4 linked regions of the Homo sapiens genome follow. The protein of the gene in region 2 purifies or fractionates together with the protein of the main gene of each other region. This does not show direct contact. Each region holds a gene or a part of one and is shown on either strand. Other genes may lie near its edges.

Evidence for each region.
Region 1: the proteins of SNX24 (region 2) and SEPTIN2 fractionate together in Homo sapiens (co-fractionation; one large-scale study listed by BioGRID). This does not show direct contact.
Region 3: the proteins of SNX24 (region 2) and PACS1 purify together in Homo sapiens (affinity purification with mass spectrometry; 2 studies listed by BioGRID and IntAct, with this or other methods). This does not show direct contact.
Region 4: the proteins of SNX24 (region 2) and ZNF618 purify together in Homo sapiens (affinity purification with mass spectrometry; one large-scale study listed by BioGRID and IntAct). This does not show direct contact.

The regions. Positions count from the first base shown.
Region 1 is NC_000002.12:241,332,919-241,336,497, reverse strand, and holds part of SEPTIN2 (septin-2), read right to left. Parts: intron 1,373-3,579; coding exon 1,286-1,372; intron 1,177-1,285; coding exon of another isoform or gene 1,147-1,176; intron 540-1,146; exon of another isoform or gene 524-539; coding exon 400-523; intron 1-399.
Region 2 is NC_000005.10:122,995,613-122,999,112, reverse strand, and holds part of SNX24 (sorting nexin-24), read right to left. Parts: intron 906-3,500; exon of another isoform or gene 776-905; intron 1-775. UniProt on the Homo sapiens protein: May be involved in several stages of intracellular trafficking.
Region 3 is NC_000011.10:66,230,766-66,234,344, reverse strand, and holds part of PACS1 (phosphofurin acidic cluster sorting protein 1), read right to left. Parts: intron 3,541-3,579; coding exon 3,405-3,540; intron 2,174-3,404; coding exon 2,069-2,173; intron 1,386-2,068; coding exon 1,279-1,385; intron 561-1,278; coding exon 406-560; intron 214-405; coding exon 103-213; intron 1-102. UniProt on the Homo sapiens protein: Coat protein that is involved in the localization of trans-Golgi network (TGN) membrane proteins that contain acidic cluster sorting motifs.
Region 4 is NC_000009.12:113,882,803-113,886,381, reverse strand, and holds part of ZNF618 (zinc finger protein 618), read right to left. Parts: intron 1-3,579. UniProt on the Homo sapiens protein: Regulates UHRF2 function as a specific 5-hydroxymethylcytosine (5hmC) reader by regulating its chromatin localization.

The DNA of each region.
Region 1 (3,579 bases), on a different chromosome or scaffold from region 2:
TCTTCATTTCCTTATTTGTGAAAATGATGCCAATGAGCAGTCATTTACAGACACTACGACTCAACCCACTCTCTAACAGGTTTCACTTCCTTCCACATAGAAAGGATGTACTACAGTATCTCGGTCACCAACCACGGCTCAAATCCAGGTGTTTCATTTATACTAGCAGTCTATGGATGACTGGCTTTGCGATCTCAAATTACAGTAGAGTACCAGAAAAAAATTACTCTCTATAAAATTCCTTATTTAAAAAGTCAACATTTAACACGCTTTAAATTGTCTAGGTGTTTTATTATATACAGCAATCCCAAACTTAATAATCACTCATTAACACTATCTATAAATTTATGAAGTATATTAAGTAAACAAATGCAGATCCCTGGGCATGGGGGAGCATACCAATCTCTGCAGTTGATAGCGTCACCATAGCCAGGGGTATCTACCACTGTCAGGCGTAGCTTGACCCCTCGCTCTTCAATTTCAACAGTTGAAGCCTCAATCTGGACAGTTCTTTCAATTTTTTCTAGAAAAGAAACAAACTTAATAGGGAATATAAGCAGCATGTGAAGAGGAAAGCTCACGTTCTTACGACAGGTGACTTCAGAGTCTACTGCCTCTCTACAGAGGTAGGTTCTCCAAAGATACCATGGGGATTAAGAAAAAAAGATCCCAGAGAAGTCAGAAAGGGGAAGGTTAAAGCTAAGATTATTGTGCTACTGGGGAAGGTTAAAAACACAAATGTTAAAAATTATAATTTCTGTTCCTGGGAAAAAGAAAGCAATTTACGAATTCATTTAAAAACTGAATTCAAAAATATTCTGAAAGGGCTACATATTCTTGCAGCAGCCCAAGTCTTAGGCTCTCACTATGTGTGCCTATTTCATTCAACAGTCATTTGTGGATGCTGGTGTCCTGTGCTGGAACTTTCTGACAGTAGATGAATTCGAACATCTATCCTAGTAATCTTCTAGTTACACAGCATTTTTGATGTAAAACATTCTCACTTAATCCTTCCATCAAATATTTAATATAGGCAGAAACTACTTATTACATTTTACAGACAAACTCAAGAGAGGATGGATCCATGGATACGTGTCAAAGAAAGTCTACAACCCAAATCCAAGGACCTCGGTGCAGCACACCTACCCCATAAAAGTGTTTTCCTTGTGTTCAAAGCTGAACAAGAACAAACAAAACACACAGCTAAGACATAAAATATTAATTAGGCAGTCTTCAGCATCTTTCATGTAGAATTACACTTACAGTAACATAAGAATGTTTTTACCTGCTGCTCCAGGTATGACTCTTTCTGGGTACAGATCAGTTAGGAATAGGCTGTTTATGAGAGTCGATTTTCCTAGACCTGATTCACCTTTAAATAAAAAGAAAAACCTTGTCATGACCTTATTCATATGACACCATTCAATCGGTTAAGTGTTTACATAAGGCCTGGTACTGGGCTAAGTACCTCACAAACATCATTCTGTGTTTAGTACCTACAGTACTACTATGTTTGCAGTATGATCTTTGAGGGTACTCAAAGAAACTCTAATTTGCCCAAGGTCAGAGTACTATCCAGAGCAGGGCCAAGATTTGAATCCAGGTCTATGAGACTACAGAACTTGAACATCATATAATTAGAAACATAACTGTTCACAAATGTGAGGAATGTACTTTAGAGGTTGGTTTTTATTTTTGACAAATAGAATGCAAAGCAGGTTTTCAATTATCAGTTCTGCTAGTCACTAAACTCACCACATTTTCAGAAAACTGAACATATCTATCCCATAGTGTCAACAACCCTTGTGCTTCCCGAGCTGCAGAAACGTGTGAGCAGGACAGGGCCTGTGGTCTGGTGGGCTCACATGCACACCCTCACTCTGCAACCTCCCCCTTCTGCCACCTTGTCTTCTTCCTGCTTTAAATCCATCCCCGTTTCCCAGCACTGGCAACTGTCATATGTCGGGCAACTTTCCCGCTCACTTTGTTGAGTTCACACGACTAATTCAGGTGACACATATCCATGTAAGCTTTCAATGAGGTGAGAATCTCTCTTGAACTACTGTGACTACATATTCTGAATATTTGAAATTTAACTTCAAAAAAGATGCAAAATACCAAAAATTAAATTTTACATTTGAAGGAAGCACAAATCCCACTGCTTCATTGCAGATGATCATCTAGGTCTCAATTCTGCATGGAGAACTGCTTCTGATCTTGGTACTACTGGTGCTGGACTGTCCTCTGGGTACCCTAAACCACCCTCTGTTAAGTTCTGCAAAGCATGAGGAAGGAGTACACATCTCTTTTGAAAAATTATTTCTGGCTGGGCATAGTGGCTCACACCTATAATCCCAGCACTTTAGCAGACCAAGGCTGGAGGATCACTTGAGGCTAAGAATTCAAGACCCCGCCTGGGCAAAATAGTGAGACCCCCATCTCCCAAAAAACCAAAACAAAGTAAAAAAAACCCCAAAACCTTAGCCAGGTGTTGTGGCTTGTACCTAGAGTCCCAGCTACTTGGGAGGCTAGGGCAGAAGGATTGCTTGAGCCCAGGAGTTAGAGATTACAGCAGGCTATGATCATGCCACTGCACTTCAGCCTAGGTGACAGAGTGAGACCCTGTCCCTTACAGAATAAAACAATTCTGGGAAAATCAAGAACAAATAAGTGAATTTGCAATGTGCAGACGCACAGCCGGGCGCGGTGGCCCACGCCTGTAATCCCAGCACTTTGGGAGGCCGAGGCAGGCGGATCATGAGGTCAGGAGTTCAAGACCATCCTGGCTAACATGGTGAAACCCCGTCTCTACTAAAAATACAAAAAATTAGCCGGGCGTGGTGGCGGGCGCCTGTAGTCCCAGCTACTCGGGAGGCAGGAGAATGGCGTGAACCCGGGAGGCGGAGCTTGCAGTGAGCCGAGATCGCACCACTGCACTCCAGCGTGGGCGACTGAGCGAGACTCCATCTCAAAAAACAAAACAAAACAAAAAGAAACATGCAGACATACAAAATTAGGACTGCATTTTAAGTGAACTGCAATTTTCACACATGAAAAGAACAAAACAATGTGTTGAACATGCCTAAATATGAGTGTAAAAATTTGACTAAATGCCTGTTATCCCATTAAGTCATCCTTTTAATAAACGGTGGTGCAATGCCCCTTTACCTGTTTCTTTAGAAGTCTGACAAAATTTTAAAAACTGCCTTTCCTCTTCAATAGTCTCTCATTTACTAATTAGGTGTGTTAGGGTTTTCCTGATACACCCATTTTTCTTGAGCTATTAATACTACAATTTAAAAGTTGAGGATTCTTGTGGCTTTCTAGTTTTACTTTTCACTACTCACCCTCAACCCCCTACCTGTTTTATTTTAAAGCCACTTTGAGGCACGATTTACAAATACTAAAATACACCCATTTAAACTGTACAGTTTTGACAAAAGTAGATACTCAGATAATCAAACTCCACTCAAGATAAAGATTATTTTCATAACCCTAGAGTTGCTTTGTGTAACTGTGAAGTCTACCCTCTCCAGTCCCCACCGCAGGCAAACACCAATCTACTTTGTCACTATGTAT
Region 2 (3,500 bases):
AAAGTCTACCAGAGTGTGTGAACTGAATATAAGTTTGCCACCTCCCCCTCCCCCTCCCCCTCTTCTAAAAGACCACAGGAGAAAAGCATCAAAGGTTTTATCATAATCTCTGACTTCAATACAACTATTCTTAAGGGTCATTTTTCATAACTTATCATGGGTAAATTTTGTCCAGTAAGTACATGTTGTTTAAAGAACTATGAGAATCAGTGGTGAAATATCACTCACACAACTGATCAGGAATACTGTGTAAGGGTGGTGCATAAGATACATAACAAGTAACAAAAGTGAGGTGAAATTATGTACCTTGTAGATACATAGTTCTATATCACATCTTGTTCTTAGCCATGGTTCACATACTGAGTGGCCCCAATTCCTCATCAGGTTTTGTAATACTGTTACCCAGTTCAGGTCATACAAATGAAGTGGGTAACTATACAGGTTGCCAGTCCTCCTAGGCTGCCCTCTGTCCCACACTAGAGCAGAACCCTCCTGGTGTTCAGTCCCTGGAGAGGGGTCATCTAAAGAGCCACTTCCACTGGGGGCTGCTACGGTTCTTTACACAGCTCACCATTCCCATGGAAGCTTAAGGAATAAAAGATAGAAGAAAAAATTGGGGTGTTATACTTTATTCACTAAATAATAATTTCCTGGGCATCTATTATGTTAGGCACTGGGACATGATGATAAATCTTACAGGTCCAGTGGAGCATGGGCTGAAGAAAGCTAGCAATGAACAAGTAAACACACACACTAAACAACAACTTAAACTTGCCTTAGAATATAGTGAGATAGAATCGAAATAGCGTATCACTCTCTAAGCGTTTTCCCATCTACCAATGCATTCATCCGTCCATCCCTCTGTCCCTCTCTCCATCCATGTGTGTGTATGTGTTTACTTTCTCCTGGTTATAAAAATAGAAAAATAAAAAGTTCAGAAAATAAAAAGAAAAAAAAAACCTCCTTTATCCAGAGGCATAATTTCATTACTATTTCAATTAAATTTCCTTAAATCATTTCACTTTCATCTCAGTTTTTACCTATTCAAGGACATTTTTTAGGTGCCCAGAGGTCATTATTTCAGTGCCTGTAACTCAAAAAGTTCTAGGCGTCATCACACATATAAAACTCCGAGGTATTTTGGCTATGACACATGTTTCAATGATTGTTTTTTTTTCTAGATATCTGTTTAAGAGGATGATACAATACTTATTTGAATAATAAAGCCTAATTTGTAACACATGCAGACTTGTTACCCCAGGCAATAGTTTTAATTATCTGTACAAGTGGTTGCTTTCAGATTTAAAAAAAGAGGGGAGGGTATAACATTCTTATCTCCACCCCCACCTTCTTAAAATAAATTAAATCAATAACAAGTGTGGGACACTTTTAATGACCTGAACTACTTAATTTCCAGGATCTTTAGACGTGTCATCCATCACCGCAGTATGGAGGAAGACATCTCTTGAGTGTTCAGGGGGTTACTTAGGTTTATTAATGCAAGATTTAGGGAATTTTAACAAGGTGAATTGTTTATTTGCCTTGACAGATCGGCTTACAATGCACTGGCTACATCTACGGCATGATCATTAATGACAAAAGACAGGAAAAAAGCTATTTACACTGCAACACAGGGACGGGAATTAATCCTGCTCAGCTTCCCCAAACAGAGTTCTCCAAACAGATGATCACATTGCTTTACGTAAGATATACTGGCAAAAGCACTACAGAAAACTCCAGAAATTTGCATGAATTTACTTTGCTAAATTTTCACCGAATATTCTCAAATAATATTTTCCATAAAACAATGACCAATATGTACTTTGGGATTTATAGTTTTAGAGAAGGCAGCATTGAGAGTTAGTTAAGCATTTAGTTATGTGGGCAGGAATATTTCCTAAGCTCTGTTTTAAAAGCTTGGGAGAAAAGAACTAATACTTCAGAGACAAAGTAAAATACAGAAGAATTTACCTAATGTAATATATTATGTACAAATGACTGTCATCAACTGGTACAGAGATACAAAAGAGGAATTAAATCTTTTTGTTCATACACACATGATCATATTCATGAGAAACTGAACAGTAAGGCTGGACCTCACAACTGTTCCATTTACAACTTCTTCAGTTTCTTGAAAGGCTTTTGCTCTGAAGGAACCACCCCTTCTTGAAGCTGTACCCTGGGTCATCCTATAGAATAAATGTCAGTTGGGTTTAAATCTCTCAACTTTGCTCAACAATAAGCTCCTAAGTTTTAAAAAATCAAATTTTTGAATATCAAATCCTATCTCCCTATTGTTTTAGATTGCTTATCTTTATTTTTTATTAATATCCAATGGTTAATCGCTTTCATTCTTTAGAGAGGCAGTGTGGAGTAGGAAGTATGTGGGCTTTCAGGAAGACCTGAGTTTGAATCCTTTCTCTTTCTATCTTAAAATTAGGTTATTGTGAGGATTAAATGTCTCCAAGAATCTCTGATACACAATCAGCGATGGATAGATGCTAATTCTCTTTTCTTTGAGTATTGTTGTTGTATTAATTTCCAACAACCTATTTTATCCATTTTGAAGTTTGGATAATTGTTCATCGAGCAAACAGAGCTTCTTGGCCCTCTATATTTCAGGGATATTTTTGAGTATCAGATAAAAGCTGAGTATCCTGCTTGCTGGAAAACATACATACATCTATAATTGTGCTTTCAGTGGCAGGGGGTTTGCAGACCCCTGACAGCCCAGCCAAGAACACCTGCTTTTAGCTTAGACAGGGCAATAGCACTCACTGCTGGGCTCACTTTTCTTTGGCCTGGAGCCTGATGCACTGTGGCCGGTGCTGTGTGCCAGCTCCCCAAAGGACACGCTGGCCTTCTTGTTTCAGTTTTCTATCTCTTTGTCAATTAGAATCCCACTGGAGGGTATGCTGCCTTGCTATTAGAATTCATTAATGCCTTCAGCTCTGGGCTGAGTTGAAAACGTTTGGCATTGAGGCTACTGTGGTAAAGGATTCTTTCTAATACACCAAAATCTATTGCTGCACCGATTCTAGAGAGTAATTCATATTCATGATTTCCATGTCTTCTATATATTATTCTAAAATGCAGCAGTCAGTGGTGTGGAGGGCTCCCAAAATTAACAAAACATTAAGGAAAGTATGATTTTCCACTCTATCGTTGCTGGGTTAGAGTACAGCTGATGAAGTACTACCATGCTGCCCCTGTTATAAGAGGGGCATTCTGAACTGCAGGGTAGCGATGGGATCAGGCCCAGTGCTATCTACTTAATTACCCAGTGACTCTGGTGGTGAAGTTCTGATGCTGCTCATCCCATTCCTGGATGCAAGTTGGCACACATGGCCTGTCAACTAATTTATGCAGTAAAACATCAAGAATTCAAAATTAATATGACAAGTTTGGACAAAAAGCTAGAAATAAATCCCAATAAATTTTACAGGTATACACACAGAGTGAAATACTGTGAGAGGCAGAATTAATTACCCAGATGCAAG
Region 3 (3,579 bases), on a different chromosome or scaffold from region 2:
GCTGCAGGGAGGAAAGCAGCATGACCTCAGCCTCCTTCTGCAGCCAGGCTGGCACCTGTGGACCCCGGGGGTGGGAGTAAGCTCCTTACACGGGGCCATTACCTGACACTGGTGGCTCCGAGCGACTGAACAGATCTCTCCAACCAGAATCCAGGAAGGAACTACTGTATTTACTGTCGACTGACCCCAAGTATTTGGCCACAGGGTGAGAACCTGGTAGATGGAAAACCAGAGGTGGTGAATTCGTCAGGAGATGAGACAGTGTGGGAGCAGCTGTCCCTGGCCACGGCCTTGGTCTCCTTGACTGTCCCTTCCTAGGCCCCAACCCCACCGTCCTGTTCCAGATGAGGCATCTGTCTATGGAACCCTCATGCCCGACGCCCTCCTGGTGCCTCCCGTCTTTACCGAGGGGGATGATGAGGAAGCGCATGTAGCCAAGCCAGTCGGAGGTCTTGTTGGCCAGGGACTTGACAAAGAACCTGAGGATGGAGCTCAGGTAGCTCTGGCCTCCCACAGCAGCCACCTTCACTGGCCTCGGCATGGAAGAGTTGCAGTTGCAGCTGGGGAGGAAGGGGAGCGTCATAGCAGTGCTCAGGGGTGCCAGGATCCTGCCCGGGGGAGGCCCAGAGCTGACTTTCTGTGATCTCAACAACCCACAGGGGAAAAGCAAACCAATCCACAAAATAAAACAGAGAGGATCATACAGGGAATAAGCCACAGTGCTTTCACAACCAAGAGAAAAATCCAGGGTCAGAGGGCATTGCCCATGAAGCAGACGGAACAGCTGAGGCTAACGTAGGACTCGGCAGTGTGCCTGGGATGCCCGCAGGGTGTGTGCCCCCAGGCCTGGAATCCATAGTTCTCTTTCACAAGGGCAAGGGACTTGGGCCTTTTAAGAAGGCCCTGAGGGTAGGGGAAGCACTGACTCCTGAGTGTCTAGCAGCATGTTGCAGATGGAAGGAATAAAAGATCTTTTTAAAACCAGTGTGTCCTCTCCTTCATCATGGGTTTAAGAGGATAAAGCAAGTCAAGGCATGGCGGGGGTCCAGGCAGGGAGGCAGGGAGCACAGGAATTGATATTTCCACCCCCGATCCTCTGGGGTCTGCCGGGGCCTCAAGCCCTACAGCCTGCTGCCGCCACCCCCCTAAACATACGCCCCTCTGCAAATTCTTGGTCTGATGAGGCCAGGAGGGTCTATCATTGCTTAGAAGTCAGGGTTGGAAGATGAGGTCAGAGGGAATCTCTAAGGGCAGGAGAAGGGAGGCCAGAGCCCTTACTAGCGCTGGATCCGGGTGAGCAGGGCGGACAGCACGGCCTGGACCTCCACGGTGGAGCAGGTGCACACCACAGGCTTCCGCTGGTCCTGGAGCAGCTCAGCCACATACTGGGATAGGGAGGGAGGAGAGCAGGGACACAGGTGAGAACACATCACTCCTTCACAAGGGCCAAGAGGCAAGTGAGACCCAGACCGAGCTGCAGGGCCCCTGTCCTCTGCAGTTCAGACCGAAGCTGGGCAAAGGCAGCCAGGTCTCCGGACTGCCAGTAAGGAGGGGGTGGGGCCGACCCACGAGACACGCAGAGTGTGAGAGATGGGAAGCCTTAGGGGGTTTCACATGCTAGGACACTCCAGGTGTCCCCGGCACCAGTGTCTAAGCCAGGTGGACAGCGGTGAGGGAGCAGGCAGGGATGCTCTGCCTTGCTGACCTGCCTTCATGGGGCAGCCCTGGAGGTTACAGCCGGGTGCTTCTCTACAGGCCTCCGTTCCACTATGCTGCCTGACGCATGTGGCGCCCTGGAGGAATTACTGTTGCTTTTTGTTTGTTTGTTTTTTAACGTATGAGGAAGCTGAGGTAGAGCAAACTTAGTGATTTAAGATCCCACAAGTTGGATAATGACAGAAGTTGGACTAGAACTCAGAGTTCTGGGCTCAGTTCAGAGCAGGTGGGGGCTGATGGAGGGGTGAGTTCCCCACCTCCCCACGCAATAGTATGGAGGCCACACTGACAATGCAACCGGGCATTGCCTGCCCTCCAGGACCCCACATGGCCTCGCAGTTTCAGCACTTACCTGGCCCTGCCAGTCAGTGGTGTTCACCAGAATGACATTTTCTGGGAGGGCTGCATCTGACACCAGGATCTGATTGAGCTGGTCATACACCACCTTTCTTGGAATCTGCAGGAACAAAAGAAAGTGTCTCTTGTTAGGGAGTCCCTGGGGAGCCTGAGGACAGGGCTGCTGGACTGGTGCATGGGGAGTCTCTGGAGCAGGGGTGTTAGAGAGAACAGATATCAGGACTTTGGGAGGGAGACTCAGTCTCCCACTGGCCAGACCACGATGGAAAGGAGGAGAAAGAAGCAGCAAAGCGAGTCCTTAGAGGACACATGGAGATGAGGAACAAAGCCACAGCGGTTGTCCTGCCAGGGCAGGTGGAGAGGATGGAGGTGCAGCAAGCCTCGCGGATGGGAAACGGTGTGGGTGGCAGGAGGGGCAGCAGCGTAAGAACCAGGAAGGGAGAGGCAGAGGGCGGCCAGCAGGTGCTCAGAGAAACAGAAACGAGGGCAGTGGGGAGAGAAATAATGAGAGTGGCAATGAGTGCTGTGTGGGTACCTGCTGTCTGAGGGAACAAAAGGTATTTCAGGAACAGTGATTAACAAGAAGGACAATACCTCACCCCAGGCACTGGGCTATTCTAGTCTCAAGTTCATTTTCAGCCATGTAATAGCATGGAGCTCAGGAGGCCACACTGACAATGCACTTGGTAAGTTATCAGGGGAATGAACAGGCTGGCTGTTTAACCCTAGCAGAACTGGAACTGTGTAAGGTGTGCCGGGAAAATCCCTGTCCCAGATCTCTGACACCACAGGCCTTCAAAAGGAGAACACGATTCCTGAGGCCCAGTTCTTCTGACTTCTTCTCCAGCCCACTCTCGGGTCCTTCCATTGAAACAGTTTAATATTGTTGGCTTCCCGGCTTGAAAGCACGATGACCGCCCACAGCAATACTCAGGTTGGGAGCTCGGGTCAGGATGTCCCATGAGATCCAGAGGCTGCTGTCCTCTGCAACAGTGGATTCACGGCACAATCTCCAGACTGACGTCTGATGGAGGCAGAGACACCGGTGGTGTGGAATCGACACTCGCAGCCGTGGCAGGCCACGACCACACAGCGTTTTTGGCTCCCCTGCCTGCGCCCTAGAGGTCAGCGTGGAAGCCAGTTCCACACTGGCAGTAAGCAAGGAATATAGGAGACCTCTCTAATTTAGTCTTTCTTCAAGAGTTTTTGTTCAGAGCATTTCCAAGTATTCCTCTTCTCTCCAACTAACTGTCCAAGGAAGCCAACAAAACAGAGCCTGAAGTTCAGGGAATCTCAGAGGGTCCTGGTGTTTTGGGGGCACCCAGAAGTACCTGCGTGCTGTGGCCCAGATCTGGGGAGCGCTCGCTGTCGGAACTGTTGGTCCTCTCACTTAGGGGCTTGGAGAGCTGCCGCTCCTTCAGGGGCGTGCTCCTCTTCTGCCGGGGTGTGTGCACCCCCTCCACTTTGCTGCCAGGGAGGTGGAAAAAGGCTGGTGAAATAGCCCCT
Region 4 (3,579 bases), on a different chromosome or scaffold from region 2:
AAACAAAACACAAATTCTCTGCAAACTTTCACCTGACAAAAATTCCCACCCTTAGTCCCCCAATTTTCCACAAAAATGTTGGGACAGGCAGGAATTTGTATGGCACAGGCTCAAAGCTGAGAGGTAAGAATGGCTAGCTCCTCAGATATGCTGTCTTGGACAGTAACACATCCAGTAAGCAAGCCAAAAGCACTTTTGACTTTGAGTGCTACCAGCAAACTGCGAGCCAGGGACTTGCCAAGAGATACTCAGGCCTCCTCCACTTTGCAGGAGCCATTTCCACCCCTGGGGGAGACACCAGGTTTCATTCCTCCCTGGGTCCTCACCCAGGAACAGGGCTGACCCCTGGTAATCAAAGATTCACCCCTGACAAAGGGCTCACTTCACTAGAAAGCAATGTTTTTCCCTGTGTTTTCTATAGCAGACTGGGGGGCCAAGCATCACCTGACTCCATTTATTCGCTTTAGCTTATATAGAAAGCCTCATTCTGCTTTGTCAGCCAAAATATTTATATCACTTTTTTGTCGACTCAATACCATCCTCACCTCAGCCTTCCTCCTTTCCTTTTTAAGAAAGGAGTTGTCGCCAACATGTTTCTCCAGTTCTTTGCTGTTCATGAAGCACTTTCTAGTCCATTAACTCATACGATGCTTTCAAAAAGCCTGGAAGGGTTTAAGGATGGCCTGTCCTCCCACTAAACAGATGAACAAGTAGAGGCTGTGTCGGGGTCCCAGACCCCAAGGCCTTCCAGGGCTAGGCAGGCCACATACATGATTGAAACAGGATGAGGCTGGGGACAGATGCAAACAGGAAAGAATCTGTGAAAGACTCACAAACTCCAAACTTTCTGAACCCTGGGCTGGCAAAAAGATAAAATAACATACAAGAGAAGGGACCCACTCATCTTGTGGCCCTTAGTCTGTGACTCAGTTTACACAACTTACCCAGCATAGCACTAATAATTCGTACTAGTTATAAAAAGTAACGTGTATTTAAAAAGTAACATGTATGTCAAGAGTTTACAAAGCATTTTCAAACTTGTTATCTTATGTCATTCCTGTGAAGAATCATTACCAGCCCATTTCTCAGATGCAGAAATTAAGATACGGAAGGACTAAAGAACTTGTCTGTGGACTTGAAAGTGTGTAAGCAGCAAACCTGTCCCAAACCCAGGTCATCATCCAGGAACCCCAGGGCCTGCCTTGCCCCACTGCCACGTCACTTACACTGCTGAGAGACACCATCCAATCCAGCTGCCTAGCCACAGGCGTCTCCCCTTTGAAACCTGATCACTCCAGGATCAGGCAGAGAAGCAGGTCATCCAGCCCTGCTTTGATGACAACCCCAAGGGTATCTAATTATAACAGGGAAGGGAGGAGTCAGGATTCTCTCGCTATTTCTCAAGACCAAATTAATTTTAATTCCTTTTGATACAGTGTATACACACAGGGCAGGAAAAGCACTGGTTGAGGAGTGAAGAAATCTGAGGCTTTTAGTCCCACTTCCGCTTGTTCACTGAGGTCTTGGGTAAGTCACTCCACCTTCTTCCCAAGGCCTCAGTTTCTCTGTCTCTCTCTCTCTCTCTCTCTCTCTCTCTCTCTCTCTCTGTGTGTTTGTGTCTCGATAAGGAAGGAAAAACTGGCTTCATGTCCCATGGGGTGCGTGTGTGTGTGTGTCGATAAGGAAGGACAAACTGGCTTCATGTCCCATCTAAGCCCAACTGATGGGTAGCATTATATAATACTAAGGACTCTGAGGCCGCTGGCCATACTCAATGGAAAGGACTACCATGGTCAATTAGTGATGTCTGCCACAGGCTAGAGGATGGGGAATGGCAGCATGTATGCTACTTATTTACCATCCTTGGACTAGATGATGCACAAATAACATGCTGCAAGTGAAAAGAACTTTGCCCTTTACAAAACTTTTTTCTTACATCTCTCACAACTTTCACAAGAACCCTATGCATCATCATCTTCAATCATCATCATCAATATATTATCATCTCACCTTTACAGGTAAGGAAAATACGGTGCAAGGAAATGAAGTACTTTGGCAAACACCACAAAATGATTAACTGGTGGAGCAGAGAGGGGAGCCGTGCCTTGGCTCTCCGACTATGCTCTGCTCATTCTACCCTTGGAAATGTCAAACTGGTGCTCCGCTGTTGTCGGGCCAGCTCATGCATGTGGCTGTACTGAAGAGACCCCCCTCCCCCATTTACAGGACTTCACCTCCCTCCCACGGGCTACTTGCCCCTTTTAGAGAGGCCACAGCAAAATTACAAAACCTACACACAGACATGGCAGGAAAGTAGGACTAAGTCAGAGTTCCAGATGTTTCTTCCCAAGGTGAAGTCCTGCCTTCACTGTACAGGGCGGGGGGGGGGGGGGGGGGGGCCAAGCCCAGAGAAAAGTGAGGTAAACAGAGCATGGAGCCCCCACAGGTCATAGTCCTCCCCACCAGGAGGACAACAACACTCAATCCCAAGATGCTTTCAACTGATAGATGCACCATCGATTTTATAACAGCTTTTGGAGAAGAAATAAGAGGGAGAAAAAGTTCACTAGAAGAACAAATCTACTGTAAGGGGCATCCTGATTTCAGAAATATGGAAACGTGGGAATATGAACACTGAGGATCGATGTCTACCTTAACTTAGGATTCTATGCTTGCTTGCTGAAATTGGCCACAAAGTGTTAAAAATGACAGCATTTTATAAAACGTGCTGAAAAAAACTAAGCCAAGAAACAGAAGGTTCTGTTTTCTCCCATAAATTTTCCTTGAATCTTTGACATCTGCAAACCAAAATTCAACCAAAAATGGGGTCACATCACACATTTAGGTGCTTCAAGTTGAAGGAGCCCGTGTGCCTGGATATTCTGCAAACAGGCCCCTGGTGTTCAGTTCCAGGACACCTGGCTAAGAAGACCAGGCATAAATACAGGGCACTGCTATGCCCCATTCACCATACCTGCAAATCAGGCATCTGGGGGTCCCCCATCCACTTTAAAGAAATACTTTATACAAAAGGAGTGAGGAGGGCAGGGGTGAAAGTCATCAGACGAACATTTTAAAAATCCCCCAAGACATGTAAAGGAGCATTTCCCCAACTAAGGATCCCTGTTGGACTTATTATTCCAGGGGAGCCATGGCTTCAGAGCCAGCTGTAAGAAAATGTGCCTCGGGCTCCCTAATAAAACATTGGCTTTGACCAAATGGCCAAGCCCAAATTGGTCATCCACTCTTCACTAGACCCAAAGCCCACTGATCTGAGCTATTTCCAAAAATCAAATGAAGTCATCAAATATTTATGGAGCTGCTGCTCTGCGCCAGACCCTAAAATGAATAACCGGTGATCTCTACCCTCACAGATGTTACAAGTTGGCTGGAGAAGCAGAAATGCAAACAACCAACTCTGACCTGTGGGTCCACATTGTTTGGGAGGTACCATGGGGGCAGAGGGAGAGGAAGCCTACCTGGGGAAATTTGTTGGGGGAGCTCTACAGAAGAAGAAGTGCAGCTGATCTCGAGGAGGGTCTGGTTTCTCACGAAGCAGATATGAATGAGGGAAGGGGC